Regions from separate parts of the Homo sapiens genome. Here all the other regions are linked to region 2. The links come from fine-mapping of genetic effects on gene expression. A gene starts in region 2. Each other region holds a variant in brackets. All regions are shown on one strand. Distances are from middle to middle.

Region 1 (5,218 bases), 57 kb before region 2:
AGGGCCTGGGCTCTTGGCAAAAAGCAACACCCTCTAACCCCAGGGTTCTCCTGGTAGGAAGGGTGGGCCCAGGCCGAGCAGCCAGGAGGGAGCTGAGACCCTGAGGGGAGCAGCTGCACTCAGGGTGCCCTTCGCTGCCCTCTGAGTTGGACGAGGCCGATTCTGAGGCCTGGAGCTGTGAGCTCGGTGCATTTGTTTCGGGTCTGATCCCTAGAACAGCTGCTACTATAAGGGACCAGTGCCTGGGGTCAGGGAGGCCTATAAGCTTCTAATATGTTGACCACAGAGGCTGGGGAGGGCCCTACAGAGTCATCACCTTGATCTAATGTCAGGGTGTTGGGGGAGTGTAGTGTCCAGCCCTACGGGGCTTAGCAGGTGTTCTCCCCATGTGCGGAGACGAGAGATTGTAAGAAATAAAGACACAAGACAAAGAGATAAAGAGAAAACAGCTGGGCCTGGGGGACCAATACCATCAAGAGGCGGAGACCGGTAGTGGCCCCGAATGGCTGGGCGCACTGATATTTATTGCATACAGGACGAGGGGGCAGGGTGAGGACGGTGAATCCTCTAAGTGATTGACAAGGTGAAGCAAGTCACGTGATCATGGGACAGGGGGCCCTTCCCTCTTAGGTAGCCGAAGCAGAGAGGGAAGGCAGCATATGTCAGCATTTTCTTCTATGCACTTACAAGAAAGATCAAAGACTTTAAGACTTTCACTCTTTCTTCTTCCACTATCTGCTACGAACTTCAAAGAGGAACCAGGAGTACGGGAGGAGCATGAAAGTGGACAAGGAGTGTGATCGTTGAAGCACCACAGGGAGGGGGTTAGGCCTCCGGATGACTGCGGGCAGGCCTGGAGAATATCCAGCCTCTCACAAGAAGCTGGTGGAGCAGTGTTCCCTGACTCCTCCAAGGAAAGGAGACTCCCTTTCATGGTCTGCTAAGTAATGGTTGCCTTCCCAGACACTGGCGTTACTGCTTGACCAAGGAGCCCTCAAGCGGCCCTTATGCAGGTGTGACAGAAGGCTCACCTCTTGCCTTCTAGGTCTCTTCTCACAATGTGCCTTCAGCACCTGACCCTATACCCGCCAGTTATTTCTTGGTTATATTAGTAATACAACAAAGAGTAATATTAAGAGCTAATGATTAATAATGTTTATACTAATGATTGATAATGTCCATGATCATCTCTATATCTAATTTGTATTATAACTATTGTTATTCTAACTATTTTCTTTATTATACCGAAACAGTTTGTGCCTTCAGTCTCTTGCCTCGGCACCTAGGTAATCCTTTGCCCACAGGGGAGCACCAGATGTGGGGCCTGAGCTTGAAAAGGGGCTGCTGCCCCTGATGTTCCCGGGCTCTTGTGCTGCCTGGCCTCTGACCCCTGGACCTAGTCTCAGGGCCTATCTTAAGCCCCTTGGAATTTGCTGGCTGCACAGCTGTGATGTCTTCTTGGGTTCACTCATCACAGTGCCAGCCATGACCAGCCCCTCCCTGCAGGTGCGGGCGGCACCCAGAGACTCACCCGTGCTGTTGGGAAGTCGCTGGCGATGGAGATGGTCCTCACTGGTGACCGGATCTCAGCCCAGGACGCCAAGCAAGCAGGTATGGGTTGGGGCTGCCCGCAAGAGCCACCTGGAAACCCGGGGTGGGAGCCCCACAGAAACCCAGGGCGGCATCCAGGTGTCCCCCTCGGGGGAGCCCCACAGAAACCCGGGGCAGCATCCAGGTGTCCCCCTCATGGGTGCCCCACAGAAACCCTGAGCTGCATCCAGTTGTCTCCCTCGTGGGAGCCCCACAGAAACCCAGAGCTGCATCCAGGTGTCCCCCATGGGGGAGCCCCACAGAAACCCAGGGCGGCATCCAGGTGTCCCCCTCGTGGGAGCCCCACAGAAACCCCGGGCAGCATCCAAGTGCCCCCACGGTGGTTGCATGAGCTTTTGGGTCCTGAGGACCTGGGAGAAGACTGACTGCCTTTTGTTTCTACATTTTGAAGTACTGTATGTACGGAAGTGAACCACACGTAAGTATCTGGTACAGAATAACAGCCCAGCAATTGCGTCCCCAAAATGCAGTGTAAGCAATGGGCATCTCCAGGCCTCAGTGGCCGGTCCTCCCACTGCCCTGTTGGTGATCACAGTCCCCGTGTCTGGCCGCCTCTGCCGTCGGAGCTGTGGCCAGCCTGGCCCACATGTCTGAGAGCACAGTGACCGCAGTGCCGAGATCACTCAGCACTCAGGAAGGGGCACGTGCGGCACTTCCCGTGTGGAAGCCGCCCTTGCTTAGCGTCCAGAGGCTGGGGTGCTCCAGCCACGCTGCTCCCCAGCGGCCACTCACTCGAGAAGGGATAGACAAGTGCTGTTTCTGCACATCACTCACTGACTTTCTTGTGTTTCAGGTCTTGTCAGCAAGATTTGTCCTGTTGAGACACTGGTGGAAGAAGCCATCCAGTGTGCAGAAAAAATTGCCAGCAATTCTAAAATTGTAGTAGCGATGGCCAAAGAATCAGTGAATGCAGGTAGGGGATCTGCCAGGAAGACACTGGAGAGGTCTCCGTGGCTGTCAGGAGCATTCCTCAGCAGCAGGCTTTCTGGCTCCAAATGAATATGCCTTAAGCCCTCCTGGGCAGAAATGCTTCTCAGTGTCTCAGTTCTGCTGTCTGTAGAGTCGTGGTTTCTGGTCACGCACTCAGGAACTCCGCTGAGATGTTCCCAGCTCCCCTTTGTACCAGGGCCCAAGAACTGAGCCAGGCCTGGGAGGTGAGGGCAGTACAGAGCTGGCAGTGGCAGGGAAAGGCTGAGAAGGGAGCAGAGGTCCCAAATGTAAAATGGTCTCTGCCATGGGGAGGCTCGGTTCACCTCCCGAGACCTGGGGTTGGCGGCTG[C/T]GTGTGCGCCTGGCAGGTGGCTACGCAGGCTTGCAGCCCAGCACCACGCTGTTCGTTCTTGGCCTGGATCCCTTTTAGTTCTCCCTCTGCCAGGGAAGTGGATCTGAACCTCCCCCTCCTCAGAAATGCTCAAGTTTTAATGTCACAATTTATTCTCAGCATGTGGAATGAGATGGTTATTAGCTGGTTGAGTCCGGACAGGTGTGGGTGGCCCCAGGCAGGTCCCCTAACCTCTCTGAGTGCATTTATCTCGAGGGTGTGGCCGTCCCCCGGGCTTGCCGTTGGCTTGAGGCAGGATACAGTGAGGAGAGCATTTTGAAAGAACGGAGGCTGCTGTCGCCCGAGGTGTTTGGCAAGGTCGTGCTCCCCTGGGAGAGGATGCTGGCACCAGCCCTGGAGCCACAGCGCCTGCCTCCATCTGCGCACCTGGATCTGCTCTGCTTGGCCTCGTGCAAAGAACGGGCCTGGAATGAGCAGAGCCAAAGGCGTTCTTGGTGCCGGCCGCGCCCAGCTCTGGCTCTCGTGCTGTCCTTCCTGGTTTTCATCCTTGGTTATTTTTCTCTGTTTGCAGCCCCGTTGCCGCCTCACAGCCTCTCCTCAAGGGCACAGTTTGCCATCTCACCTTTCATCCAGTTCCTCTCCCTTCTTGGGGCCGTGGGCTACCGGAGTGTGACGTTTGGGGGCCATAGCAGAGCTGTTGGTTCTGCCAGGTCTCCGCTGGGGCAGTGCCTTTGAGAAGGGCGGCACCATGGAAGCCTGTGCAGGGCTGGGCCACGTCGAAAGCACAGTTGTGCATGGGTCAGTGAGGAGGGCTTCCTGTCACCGTGCAGGAAAAGTTCTGCATGTAATATCTCCGTTCATAACTCTGGGACTTTGTTTTTCAGCTTTTGAAATGACATTAACAGAAGGAAGTAAGTTGGAGAAGAAACTCTTTTATTCAACCTTTGCCACTGTGAGTAAACAGTGTTCAACCGGAGAATCAAGCAAATTCCAGTCACACAAGTTGCTGGGAATTTCCTTTTAAATTTTATCATTAAGTATCGTTTCTTTCTGGTCAGAACTGCCAGCCTCACCTTTAACGGGATCAGATTGGTTCCATCAGTGGGTCTTGATGTTAGGAAAAAAGTAGAGCATGTACAAGTTCAAAAGTACAGAAACCTTACAGGGGCTTTTCTTGTTTTTCCTGTTATGTGAGGTCTGTGAATTGCACCCTCAAGCAGCTCCTTTATTGAAAATGCAGTTTCAGCCGGGTGGGTGTCGAGCATCCGTAGCCCCAGCTTCCTGGGAGGCTGAGGCGGGTCGTTCGAGTCCAACTGGGCAGCAAAGCAAGACCCCGTCTCAAAAAAAAGACTTTTTTAAAAAATGAGGCCGGGCGCGGTGGCTCACCCTGTAATCCCAGCACTTTGGGAGGCTGAGGCGGGTGGATTGCCTGAGCTCAGGAGTTTGAAACCAGCCTGGGCAACATGACGAAACCCGTCTCTACTAAAAATCCAAAAAATTAGCCGGGCGTGGTGGCAGGTGCCTGTAATCCCAGCTACTCTGGAAGTTGAGGCAGGAGAATCGCTTGAACCCAGAGGCGGAGATTACAGTGAGCCGAGATCACGCCACTGCACTCCAGCCTGGGAGACAGAGTGAGACTCTGTCTGAAAAAAAAAATGTAACTCATTTTACCCATGTTTTTTTAGATCATTCCAATTATTTGGAATAGGCTCAAATGTATTCTAATAAGATAAGCTGAAGCTTTAGAGCAATATTTTATAAGATTTCTGCCAGTAACTTAAAGTAATTCCTCTAATTACCATCATAATTTTAATTTTCTTCCCTTTGAGGCAGAGTCTTGCTCGGTCGTCCAGGCTGGAATGCAGTGGTGAGATCTCAGCTCACTGCAACCTCCACCTCCTGGGTTCAAGTGATTCTCCTGCTTCAGCCTCCCGAGTAGCTGGGATTACAGGTGCCCACCACCACACCTGGCTAATTTTTGTATTTTTAGTAGAGACAGAGTTTCACCATGTTGGCCAGGCTGGTCTTGAACTCCTGACCTCAAGTGATCTGCCTGCCTCGGCCTCCCACAGTGCTGGGATTATAGGCGTGAGCCACTGCACCCGGCCAGATTACCATTTTAATTCATGTCTTTCACTGGGAGAAAGTCATACTTCGGTGTTTTAATTGTTCTATAAAATAAAAATTAAAAGTGGTTTGGGCACCTGAGGAAGGGGTACAGATGCGTGTGTGTGTGTGTGTGTGTGTGTGTGTGCGCGCGCGCACACCTGGGGACACACGTGCACACAGTGTAAGAAAAGCAGATGCAGAGTTGAGTTCTCACGTCCT
Region 2 (5,218 bases):
GACCTATGTCTGTAGATCCGCCTCTCACCTGCCGGTGCAGGGGAGGCTGCCACAGGCTCAGAGCAGATTTCCATGGCCTCCCCTTCTGACCGCTCTCCACTGTCCCCTGGGGCTTCTGCTGAGGCTGGGCTGCGGGGAGAGAGCAGTGAGTAACTGCCCTGCACGGCTCCCACAGCCCCTGTGTTCCCCAGAAATGAACATGCAAGAAAGAAACTGGATTTCCCTGTAAGTAGCATATTTTCTTACTATTTTGGCATAGTCTGATTTTATAGTGTGGTTTAAGATACTGGGAAAAGGAGAATGATTACAGCAAGGCCATTGTTTATATAATAGAGTCTGCATCTTATAAACTTAACTGTAACAATCATACTTTTTTTTGAAAATAGTATTTTTATGGTGCCAACGGTGCCACGGGTCTTTTTATGAGTGTGAGAAATTTGCTAAAGTTAACCAGAGACTATAAACTAGTCTCTTCCATAATACGAATGTCTTAATCCAGCATTGCACGGTTTTTCTCCTTAAAATGATCCCTCGGAAAGGAGACAATTACTTTACACGTAAGTCTTTGTAAAGCCTCCCACATTGCAGTGGGTTCTCCCAGTTCTTTTATTTTAAAGAGCAAATTACTACTTGAGAAAATGTAGAGTCTGAAAAACTCTGATCAATAAAATTGTAGATGATTATGAAAGTTCACCTCATCAGTTAAAAAAAGAAGAAATATAACACAATTTAAAAATTGTTCCGGCTGGACATGGTAGCTCATACCTACAATCTCAGCACTTTGGGAGGCTGAGGCAGATGGACGGCTTGAGCCCAGGAGTTCACGACCAGACTGGGCAACATAGCAAGACCCTGTCTCTACAAAAAATAGAAAATTTTGCCGAGTGCGGCGATGCGTGTTGGTAGTCCTAGCACTTTAGGAGGCTGAAGTGGGAGAATCGCTTGAGCCTGAGAAGTGGAGGTTGCAGTGAACCTACATCACACCACTACACTCCAGCCTGGGTGTCAGAGCAAGACCCTGTCTCAAAAAAAAAAAAAGATTGTTCCTGGAAGTATTTCCCAGAGTGCACTCTAGGCAGGAACATGTTAATCAACAGCTTTGTCATCAAGTTCATATGCGCACAACCAACCAGGACAAAAGGAAAGCCAGGGCTGCATGATGTGTGAGCACGGCCGACGGCTGCAGGAGGTACAGACACGGCCCCGAGGGGTGTGAGTGCGGATGACCACGGCCGACTGCTGCAGGAGGTACAGGCATGGCCCAGAGGGGTGTGAGTGCGGAGGCGCTGCGCCCGCTCATTCCCACACCCCCTCTGCTGCCTCCACCGGCACAGAGCTGGGCAGCCAGGGGCTCCCCTCCAGCCTCCCTTCGGCAGGGTGGCCGCTGGCACAACCACCTGTAGCTGTGTTGCCAGGGCTTCAGGTACCTGCAGGTGAACACCCCATTAGGTGACACACAAGTGCTTAATAAGTCTGACCGTCTATGCATTCCGGCTAGTTGGAAACCTTTTCCTAAAATCAAAAGCAGACACGTGCTGAGCCTGGCGGCTCCCTACCTTCTGCTTTTCTTTGGCTTATCAAACCGGAAGTCCGCGGGGTACAGGTGCATCCTCACCATGTGATCCTTCCGGTCTCTGCTGGTCTTGAACTTCTCTGTGCAGCCTTCTACCAAGCACTGATACTGAAATGGAGACCGTGTCACCTCCCTCTGACCCCTGGCCCTCCCCCACCGCCATGCCCCCGTAGCAGAGCTGCCAAGGGCGGAAAGGTGTCCCCGGCCTTGCCCGAGCACCCGAGAGCTGGGGGCAGCACTCTGAGCCCATCACCAATGGGGGGTGGCCTCGGCGGCTGTGCAGTTGTCACCCACCATGTCCTGCCTCTCAGACAGGATCTGGAAGAGCGAATCGTGCCACTCCAGGATGTGGGCGTCCAGCAGGTGTCCGGAAGGGAAGGCCCGCTTGCAAAAGGAGCAAACATTTCCGTGCAGCGTGTGGTAGTGGTGCTCGTAGTCGTCCAGGGCATCGAACACCTGGCAGCAGCCGGCCACCTGGCAGGCAAACGCGGGCACCCTGCCAAGGAGACGTGCTTCAGGAGCCCTTCCTCCGGTGCGAGGAACCAAGCTGGACTTTCTGCACAGTTTCCCTTTGAGACGTCCAATAAAGCCCCTATGCATCTTTTGCAATCCCAAACCCTCTTTTTATGAATTAAGTTTCACAAACAGGCTAGGTGGTGGAAGAGTCGGCCACGCCAAAGCTGGACAGGCACAGCGCCTCGGTGGGGCGGCCGCACATGGAAGAGCGGCAGCACAGCCCCAGGGACCAGGCACCGGTCAGGGAGGCGGCGCAGGAGTAGCACTGGCTAGGCACTGCCCATTCGCTTACCTGGGCTTCTCAGGCACGTCGGCCACCTGCATGATCACGTCCTGGAGGTAGAGGTGGCGCTGCACGTCCCCATCCTGCAGGAAAAGTGCGCCGTGGGCGGGGCCAGGTGACTCGCGGCACGCCCACCGCGTCAGGCCTCGCCCACACCCGTGGCCCCAGTCATCCCGCGCTCCGGTCCCGCCCCACAGCCTCAGGCCCCGCCCACTCCACGTTCCGGCCCCGCCCCACCACCTCAGGTCCCGCCTGTCCCAGGCTCCGGCCCCGCCCCGCAGTCGTAGGCCCCTCCCACTCCAGGCTCCGGCCCCGCCTCGCCGCCGTAGGCCCCACTGGATCCTACAACTACTTTTTCCCTCTTTTGCTCACGCACCTCGAAGAACTGGTGCTCCCGCGGGAAGCGCACGGGGCGCGCAACGAAGCGAAAGGGCGCGGCCCCAGCCGCGGGATCCCGCTCTACAGGCAGCGGCTCCGCCGCCCCGGGCCCCGCAGCGAGGCGGGCGCACAGCGCGGGGGGCAACTGCATCACCCCGGGCGCGGGCGGGCGCAGCCTGTCGGCCACCGTCCGCGAGCCGAGCCGGACGTGACGTCACGCTCACTTCCGCCGCCGTCGGGGGCTGCGCGGGGGCTGTGGCTCCGGGACTGCGGTGAGTCCTGGCCGAACGCGGGCGCGGGCGTGATGAGGGGGTTGGGGGACTGCCAGGCCCGGGGGGGCCCACGAGGCGACGGGGCTGGCGGGACGCGGCTCTTCCCGCGCGCTCCCTCTGGCTGTGCAGCGGTCCCCGAACTCTGGGGCCGAAGCCCTTCGGGCCTGCACCGGCCAGGCCAGCGTCTTGCCCCGCGGCCCGACACTCAGCCGGGGCGGGGCGGAGCGGGCCTCCGGGTCGTCCCGGGTGTCCCCTCCCAGCCCTGGGAAGCCGGGTCGCAGGTCCCCCTCTCGCACGCCCTCTCCCGTCCGCCTTGCCCCGCCTGTCGTCTCCCGCTGCAGTCCCTGGATCTTGTTCCCTCTAAACCAGTCGCGAACTGGAGCCAAAGTGACTCCAGTTTTATTGTAACCGTTTTTAATTTAAAGCCCTTGGGTGACTTCCCGTTACTTTAGTTCAAAGGCCCTTTCCTGGTTTGTCGGGGTCCTGTCGACCTCTCCAGTCCCCGCAGCTCCCGTGAAACACAGGACCTGTGCTAGGTGCTCAGGGCGTGTGGGGGAAGGCATCACAGGAGGGCGCGGCAGCCTTGTAGGAGAGACAGACGTCAGAGTAAAGAGTCACCTAATTAAAATGGTGAATGACAACACACGCGGGAAGCAGTGGACGCTTCAGATCTACTGCAGAGAATGGGCCCAGTGGCGGATAGAGGCTTTAGCTTTCTCGTCTGTCACCCAGGCTGGAGTGCAATGGTGCGATCATAGCTGATAGATCGCTGCGGCCTCAAATTCTTGGGCTCAAGTGGTCCTGCTGCCTCAGCGTTCCAAAGAGCTGTAACTGCAGGCGTGAGCCACCATGCCTGCCCCTGTACTTTTTCCATGTTTAGATACACAAATATCTCTGTGTTACAGTTGTCTAGTGTTCAGCACCGCCACCTGCTGGGCAGGTTTGTAGCCCACGAGCAAGAGGCTCCTCTAGGTGGTTTAGGTGCATTGTAGGCCGTACACCATCCAGGTCTGCGAGTGACTCTGATGATCGCACAGAAGGAAATCATGTAACCATACGTTTCTCTTTTTTTCTTTTGGAGATAGTGTCTCTCTCTGTCGCTCAGGCTGGAGTGCAGTGGCGCGATCTGGGCTCACTGCAACCTCTGCCTGCTGGGTTCAAGCGATTCTCGTGCCTCAGCTTCCCAAGTAGCTGGGATTACAAGTGTGCGCCACCAGGCTTGGCCAATTTTTGTATTTTTGGTAGAGACTGGTTTTCACCATGTTGGCCAGGCATTTCTCAGAATGTTGAGTGATGCATGACTGTACTTTCTGTCTCTGTAAAAGCCTTTGGGCTCTTGACATTTTCCACAAGTTGTAAAATAACATTTTTCAAACCAATTTGTACAGTTAGCTTTGAGCTCTCAACAGAGACTCTTTTTCACGTCCCTCTGTGTTTTAATCACTTGGAGTGTGTGCTCACTAGGAGTGTGTGCCCCGCTTGTCCGTGGTGGAGTGTGACATGCGTGCATTGCTTCCCTCAGCACGCGTCCCTGCGGTAGCTCACAGCCTCTGTGAGGAGGACGTCAGTCCCTCCCAGTCACAGTTGCTGGGCCTGTCAGTTTGTGTGATTAATAGTAAGAATTCAGGAGCATCAAGAAGGCCAAGTCAGCGGCCATGGCTAGACGTTCCTCCAAGAAGCAGCCACGGCTAGATGTTCCTCAGAGCTGTGTTTTCAGTGGGACGCTGTGCATTTCTGGCGGGACAGCTCTGTTGATGATTAGCATCCCCCGCCCTTGCCCTCTAAGTAGCGAGAGCACCCTTCCATGACCGTGACACCCCAGAGTTGCCCTAGGACTTTTCCAAAGGTCTTCTGGGGGGAGGGACTCTGTGCGAGTACGGGCTGCCCTCTTGGAGGCCCGGTCCCCACATTCAGGGAGAGCAGCAGGCTCCTCATGGGATGAACACTCATGACGTGCGGGCATCTGTGCTTCTATTTCTAGAAGAGATACGAAGTTTCCTGAAGGTAGTTTTTATTTTTTTTATTATTATTTTTTGAGACAGAGTCTCGCTCTGTTGCCCAGGCTGGAATGCAGTGGTGTGATCTTGGCTCACTGCAAGCTCCGCCTCTCGGGTTCATGCCATTCTCCTGCCCCAGCCTCTGGAGTATCTGCGACTACAAGCGCCCGCCACCACCCCCGGCTAATTTTTTTGTATT
Region 3 (5,218 bases), 140 kb after region 2:
GTCCTGCTGTTCCCTGGACGTCAGAGCCACGGAACATTTGGTGGCACCGTCGGCGTGCTGCCCAGAGCAGGTGTCGGCTCCTGGAGCCTGGGCACGGGGCCTTCCTCCCGGAGGCTCGGCCAGAGCTGCTGGGTCACCTGCTCCGTGGAGCACCCCGACCCCGCAGGCTCACGGCTGGACTGGCCTGTGGAGGCTGCCAACAGATGAGCGAGGCGACGGAGTGGACATCCCCAACTGTGGACTCGTGCAGAGCTAACGGGGCGTGATCCTGACACTCACATGACTTACAACCACACGCGCTGCCAACATTTGTTCCAGGCAATTCACACGGAGGACACAGTCACGGCGGTTCCCTCCATGTGGCTCGGCCGCCCCCATGTGGGCTCACCTCCAAATCCGAGTGGGCTCCTGGACTCCGCGAGGGCTCAGCTGTGATCACGATGGTTGCCACCAACACCCACACCCCCCCCATGCACATGCACAAACATACCCACCTAGCACACGTGCTCACCCTCACACAGACACACGCATCCCCATACATGCATCCCACATGGACACACGCCAACACAGGGCACGCTCACACAGTAACACTCGGACGCTGGTGCAAGGTGTGTGCACACTCACAGTTCCATCCGCTTCACACACACACACTCATGCAATGAGAACAGACATCCTCATACACACACACACCTCACACTCACACACATACTACATGCCACCGCACACATGCCTAACACTGACCATATGCACGCACAGACATGCACACCCGCACACACCCATTCCCACACTTGGTGCACACACCCTCACAGGAACACACAAGGCTGCACAATCCACACTCGCACGCACCCGAGTATGGAGCTGAAGGCCCTCTTGGGTGTGCTGCTCCCCGGCCGGGGCACCCCATGTGCAGGTAGGAGGGGGTGGCCGGGGGCTGCAGCCTGGACACTATGGGTGGGGCCCGTGAGGAGGAGGCAGAGGCCCCTTCTCCCCCATCGCTGGCCCCCCCTCCCCCAGTGCACAGGGCGGCTCTGGCTGTACTGGAGCCACTGGGCTGATGTCCTGAGAGGCACCTCCTGCCTCCGGTCCCCCTACCCTGCCCCAGCGGCTGGCACTGCAAGAGGCCCCCCAGGCACAGGAAAGGGATGAAGGGCTCAAACCAAAGCAGGAGGCCAACAAACGACGGGATCAGGGCATGGGCGCCCGGTGGGGCCTGGCCATGGGGCTGGCTCTGCGTCTGTTCGTGGGGTCCTGGCACATCCCGTCCATCTCCTTCTTGCGGTCCAGGGAGGGGCTTGATGACATCATTTCCCAGGCCCTTCCAGCTCTTTCTATGGCGGGAATCTCCCTGCCCCATTCCTGTGGCCCGTGATCGATCAAAGGTGTTTGATTTGGGCTCAAGCCTGCCGCCCTCTTAGCACCGCCCAGGACTCCTCAGGACTCCAGAGAGCCCGAAGCTCCCAGCGACGCCTGTGAGGCTGGTTAAAGAGGTACCTGGGCACTGCGTACACACAAACACATGCACACACCCATGCACCTGCACACGCAGGCGCACACATATGTACACACTCCCGTGCACTGGCACACACATGCACACAGCGCAACATGCCCACGCACACGTGCCTGCAAACACGGGCACAGACGTGCACCAAGCGGTAAGTCAGTCTGAGGACCCCGTAGGTTGTGCTGCTTAGGAGGAAGGGAGTCAGCATGAGGCGCGTCTCAGCCGGTCCCCGTCCCCCTGCGGGGCCCTGGGGTGCCTCTGGCTGTCACTCACAGGTCAGGCGCCTGCCGCCAGCCCACAGAATGGTGTCGAGACACGTGGACCCGGGAAGGGAGCCCAGGTCAGCCGTGCCAGCAGGGCCACCACTCGCACACAGCACGCCCTCCTGCTCAGACCTGGAGGGGAGATGCCTGGTGATGGGCAGCCCCCTCCTCCCCTCAGGGAAGCCGGACACCTGGAGCCCCAGCACCCATGAGAGGTGGGCGTGTCTGAATTCCGTCGGAGATTCTCTGGATGACTTTAGCGGTGAATTCCATGGGGTCTGTGGCTGAAGCCTCCCCTCAGGGATAGGATGGTCTCAGCCTCTCTGGGGCTTTCCAGAGGGTGGGCTTCCGCTCACACAGGGTCCTGAGCCCGGCCACCCAGGGGGTCTTGTCATGTGCTGAGGGCTCCCAGGCCTGAACTCTGGGCCCCGGGTCACCTGCCCTCTGGGACCTGCAGCCTCCACCCTGCTCTGGCACAGGTGAGAGGAATTAGCCCTCCTTGCCCGAATCCACACTGGCTGGGTGAGCAAGGGGGGGTCAGACAGGCCTAAGAGGCCAGGACAGGACGAGAGGACTGGGAGAGACACAGGCAGCACTCAGCAGCCTGGGGATCCCACGTCCTTGGGCTCCCCCCGCCACATCCCAGCAGACAACCCCACGACCACCCTCAAGGTCGGGAGCTATCTGGGCGTCCTGTAGTCCTGAGCTGTGGGCGTCCTGTAGTCACCTCCAGAAGGG[G/C]CCCTTGGAGACCCCGGGGCTCTCAGCCTTGCTACCAGGTAGGTTCAAGTCCACAGCTGGGCCAGGAAGCTTCGTGCTCAAGTAAAATACGCCCAGCCGGGCTGCGGGGCTGCCGAGGTGGCCTCGACAGGAGTTTAATGGGCTGTGGCAGACACTTGGGAAGGAGGTGACGTGCTGTGAATAGCAACGCCGGCCTCAGCTGGCCGACGCCTGTCTGTCTGCCCAGCGCCGCCTCCTGCGCACCTGTCTGCCCAGCACCCACGAGGGCCCCACGGCAGGCTGGGGCCTCGTGACTTTCCACACTTCAGCCTCTCCTGCCCCTGCCAATACAGTCTGACCTTGTTGTGGCTGGCCAGCTTTCAGTGACTCCGTCTGCCGGCACAGACCCAGCCTCTTGAGCAGGCCCAGAGGGTTCTTCATGACCTAGTCCAGCCCACCGACCACCCACCCTGCCCCTTACCATCCCTAGCAGGGCGTGCCTGGGTGAGCCATGGGGTAGGTCTGAGAGCAGGGACCACCTAAGACCTGTTCCTTGCAGGACAGGAAAGACTGGTCCCCACTTTGCAATTGTGTGGCCACGAACTCCACCCCCAACCCAGGTGGGAGGAGGGATTCGGGAAGGCAGGTGGACATGAACTCCACCCCCATCCCAGGTGGGAGGAGGGATTTGGGAAGGCAGGTGGACATGAACTCCACCCCCATCCCACGTGGGAGGAGGGATTTGGGAAGGCAGGTGGCCACGAACTCCACCCCCATCCCAGGTGGGAGGAGGGATTTGGGAAGGCAGGTGGCCACGAACTCCACCCCCATCCCAGGTGGGAGGAGGGATTTGGGAAGGCAGGTGGACATGAACCCCCGGGACTGGGCTGCTCTCCAGGGCAGCAGCACATCAGCCAGTCCCTGGGTCTCAGAGGGCAGGGCACGCTTCCCACCGAGGACCCTTATCTCATGGCAGGTCCCCATTAGGGGCCCTGTGCATTCAGAAAGCTCCCACACCCCCCGCCACACTGCCAGGCAGACTTCGAGCCAGGGTTACACAGGGACGCCTAGATCGTGTGGCGCATTTGAAATACACTGTCTTATGACCAACTGATTTTTTTCAGCCGTGGGATTCTAACAGGACTAATACAAAACTCCAATCACAGCTGGGAGCACTGGCTGCCAATCCCCAGGCCTCCTGACAGCTCTCTTCACACTGCCAGGCCCCCACCACAAAACCACCTCTGCTCCCGAGGTGCCTTCTGCTCTGAGCTCATCCTGGCACAGATGTCATATGGACCCTGCAGCGGGGACGTCCTCTTCTTTACTGGGAGCCCCCAGCTGTGTGCCCCTCCAGGGAGCAACTGCATCCTGTCCAGCCTCAGATTCTGAGCCCAGCCTGACACCGGCACACAGGAGGTTCTGGGAGGCAGTTGCTGAACTCTGGGAGGGATGATAGTGCTGCCTGCCTCTCAGGGACCCGGGACACGTCCTGCTCTGGCACCCAAACCGGTGCACCCTCTTCGTCTCATCTGAATTCCCATGGGGCAGCCAGCATTGCCCATCCATCGACTCCAGCCGCCTGGACTGTGTGCCTCTTCTGCAGCCGCTGTTCTGCCTGGATTGCACTGTTCTGCCTCAGATCCCATACCCCCATCCACAGTGACTGAAATCTCATGGGAATCCCGGGCAGGACACCTCCAGGAAGCCCTCCTTGCATCACCCCCACAGAACATCTCCCTGTCTATCGTGTACTGGTGGTTCTTTGCCTGTACTGGGATCCAACCTGGTCACTTCCTCCAGGACCTGCTGGCCCACTTGCTGATGCTCTGGTAGGTTCCAGCTGAGAGTGTTCTCACACACGCACGGCCACGTGTCTCTGGGGCCCACACCATAGTGAAGTTGCTGGGACACAGGGCACTGGTGCCTTCTACTTCACCAGCGAATGCTGGGCTGTTTTCCAAAGAGGCTGCTCCATTTGTCCTCCCACTGGCGCGAGGGAGAGCTGCTGCGCCGTCCTTGCCAGCACAAGCCGCTGTCCGCTCTTCAGTTCTTGCCAGCCTGGCGGTCTTGGGAAGGCATTCGTGGGGGTGTATTTTGCATTTTCCTGATTGCAATGAGCAAACATCTTTTCACATGTTCAGCAGCCATTTGGATTTTCTTTGGGACCATGTCAAGGGAGGGACATTCCAGGGGCTCCGGTGGGTGTCCATAGGGGTCTATTTCTTGACCCCATCATGGAGCCAGCCATTATAATTAGCTGTAGAATGAGTGAGTTCCTACATCTTATGAAGCCTGCATATGTCCTGGGCCTGGCGCCACCGTGCTTTCCCGGCAGCTGCCCTGCACCCTTGGCCTTCCGGCATTCTGGGATGATGATGCAACCTCACCGTGCCCTCACCTCACCCAGGACGGTTTTCCCATGCAAGTCAGGTGCCCCGATGGAGATTTCAGAACCTTCCAAGCCAAACACGTGTGGGAAGCAGAGTCTGAACGCCAGGGGAATTCTGAGACATGGGGTGTGTTGGGCTCAGTACTGGGCACAGGGTTGGGCCAGGGACCACCCGATGCTTTCCAGGAGTGTCTGCGAAGGGCCCACCTGAACGTTCCCACTGCACGCTGCAAACTCGGTGGGATGACAGTTCACCTGGAGGCCTTGGTGGACGTCACAGGATGGAGCCACCCACCCCAGTACTGTGCCGGCCGGGAGCTGTCCGGCCGGCCCGAGGACACTGGT

Which allele goes with the higher level. Alleles are on the strand shown, and positions count from the first base shown. SD is a standard deviation of normalised expression in the study named. Not every link is listed here.
For the expression in fibroblasts of the gene that starts at base 2,973 in region 2, allele T in region 1 goes with a lower level than allele C (small effect, 0.09 SD a copy in GTEx).

What was found. PIP is the estimated chance that this variant, and not a neighbour inherited with it, causes the effect. A credible set is the group of variants that fine-mapping cannot tell apart.
Region 1: its variant is the best candidate, but not a certain one, in a credible set for the expression of TUBGCP2 in fibroblasts (GTEx, PIP 0.55).
Region 3: its variant is the best candidate, but not a certain one, in a credible set for the expression of TUBGCP2 in whole blood (TOPMed, PIP 0.83).

Annotation. Positions count from the first base shown.
Region 1 is chr10:133,363,282-133,368,499 of GRCh38, reverse strand. It overlaps ECHS1 (enoyl-CoA hydratase, short chain 1), which reads left to right. Exons shown (of 8, transcript NM_004092.4): 5 at 1,507-1,611; 6 at 2,405-2,524; 7 at 3,775-3,842. Among named protein-coding and RNA genes, the nearest start is that of MIR3944, 5.8 kb to the left of the region's middle. The variant C/T (reference allele first, on the strand shown) is at 2,891.
Region 2 is chr10:133,306,627-133,311,844 of GRCh38, reverse strand. It overlaps TUBGCP2 (tubulin gamma complex component 2), which reads left to right and starts at 2,973. Exons shown (of 18, transcript NM_006659.4): 1 at 2,973-3,022. It overlaps ZNF511-PRAP1 (ZNF511-PRAP1 readthrough), which reads right to left and starts at 2,931. Exons shown (of 9, transcript NM_001396060.1): 1 at 2,749-2,931; 2 at 2,382-2,455; 3 at 1,868-2,069; 4 at 1,557-1,681; 5 at 4-129. The coding sequence starts at 2,901. It overlaps ZNF511 (zinc finger protein 511), which reads right to left and starts at 2,931. Exons shown (of 6, transcript NM_145806.4): 1 at 2,749-2,931; 2 at 2,382-2,455; 3 at 1,868-2,069; 4 at 1,557-1,681; 5 at 4-129. The coding sequence starts at 2,901. RefSeq lists enhancers at 2,446-2,740, 2,148-2,843, 3,567-3,796 and a silencer at 2,487-3,336.
Region 3 is chr10:133,162,001-133,167,218 of GRCh38, reverse strand. The region is part of intron 1 of KNDC1 (kinase non-catalytic C-lobe domain containing 1); the gene reads right to left. Among named protein-coding and RNA genes, the nearest start is that of KNDC1, 4.4 kb to the right of the region's middle. RefSeq lists an enhancer at 1,161-1,672. The variant G/C (reference allele first, on the strand shown) is at 2,503.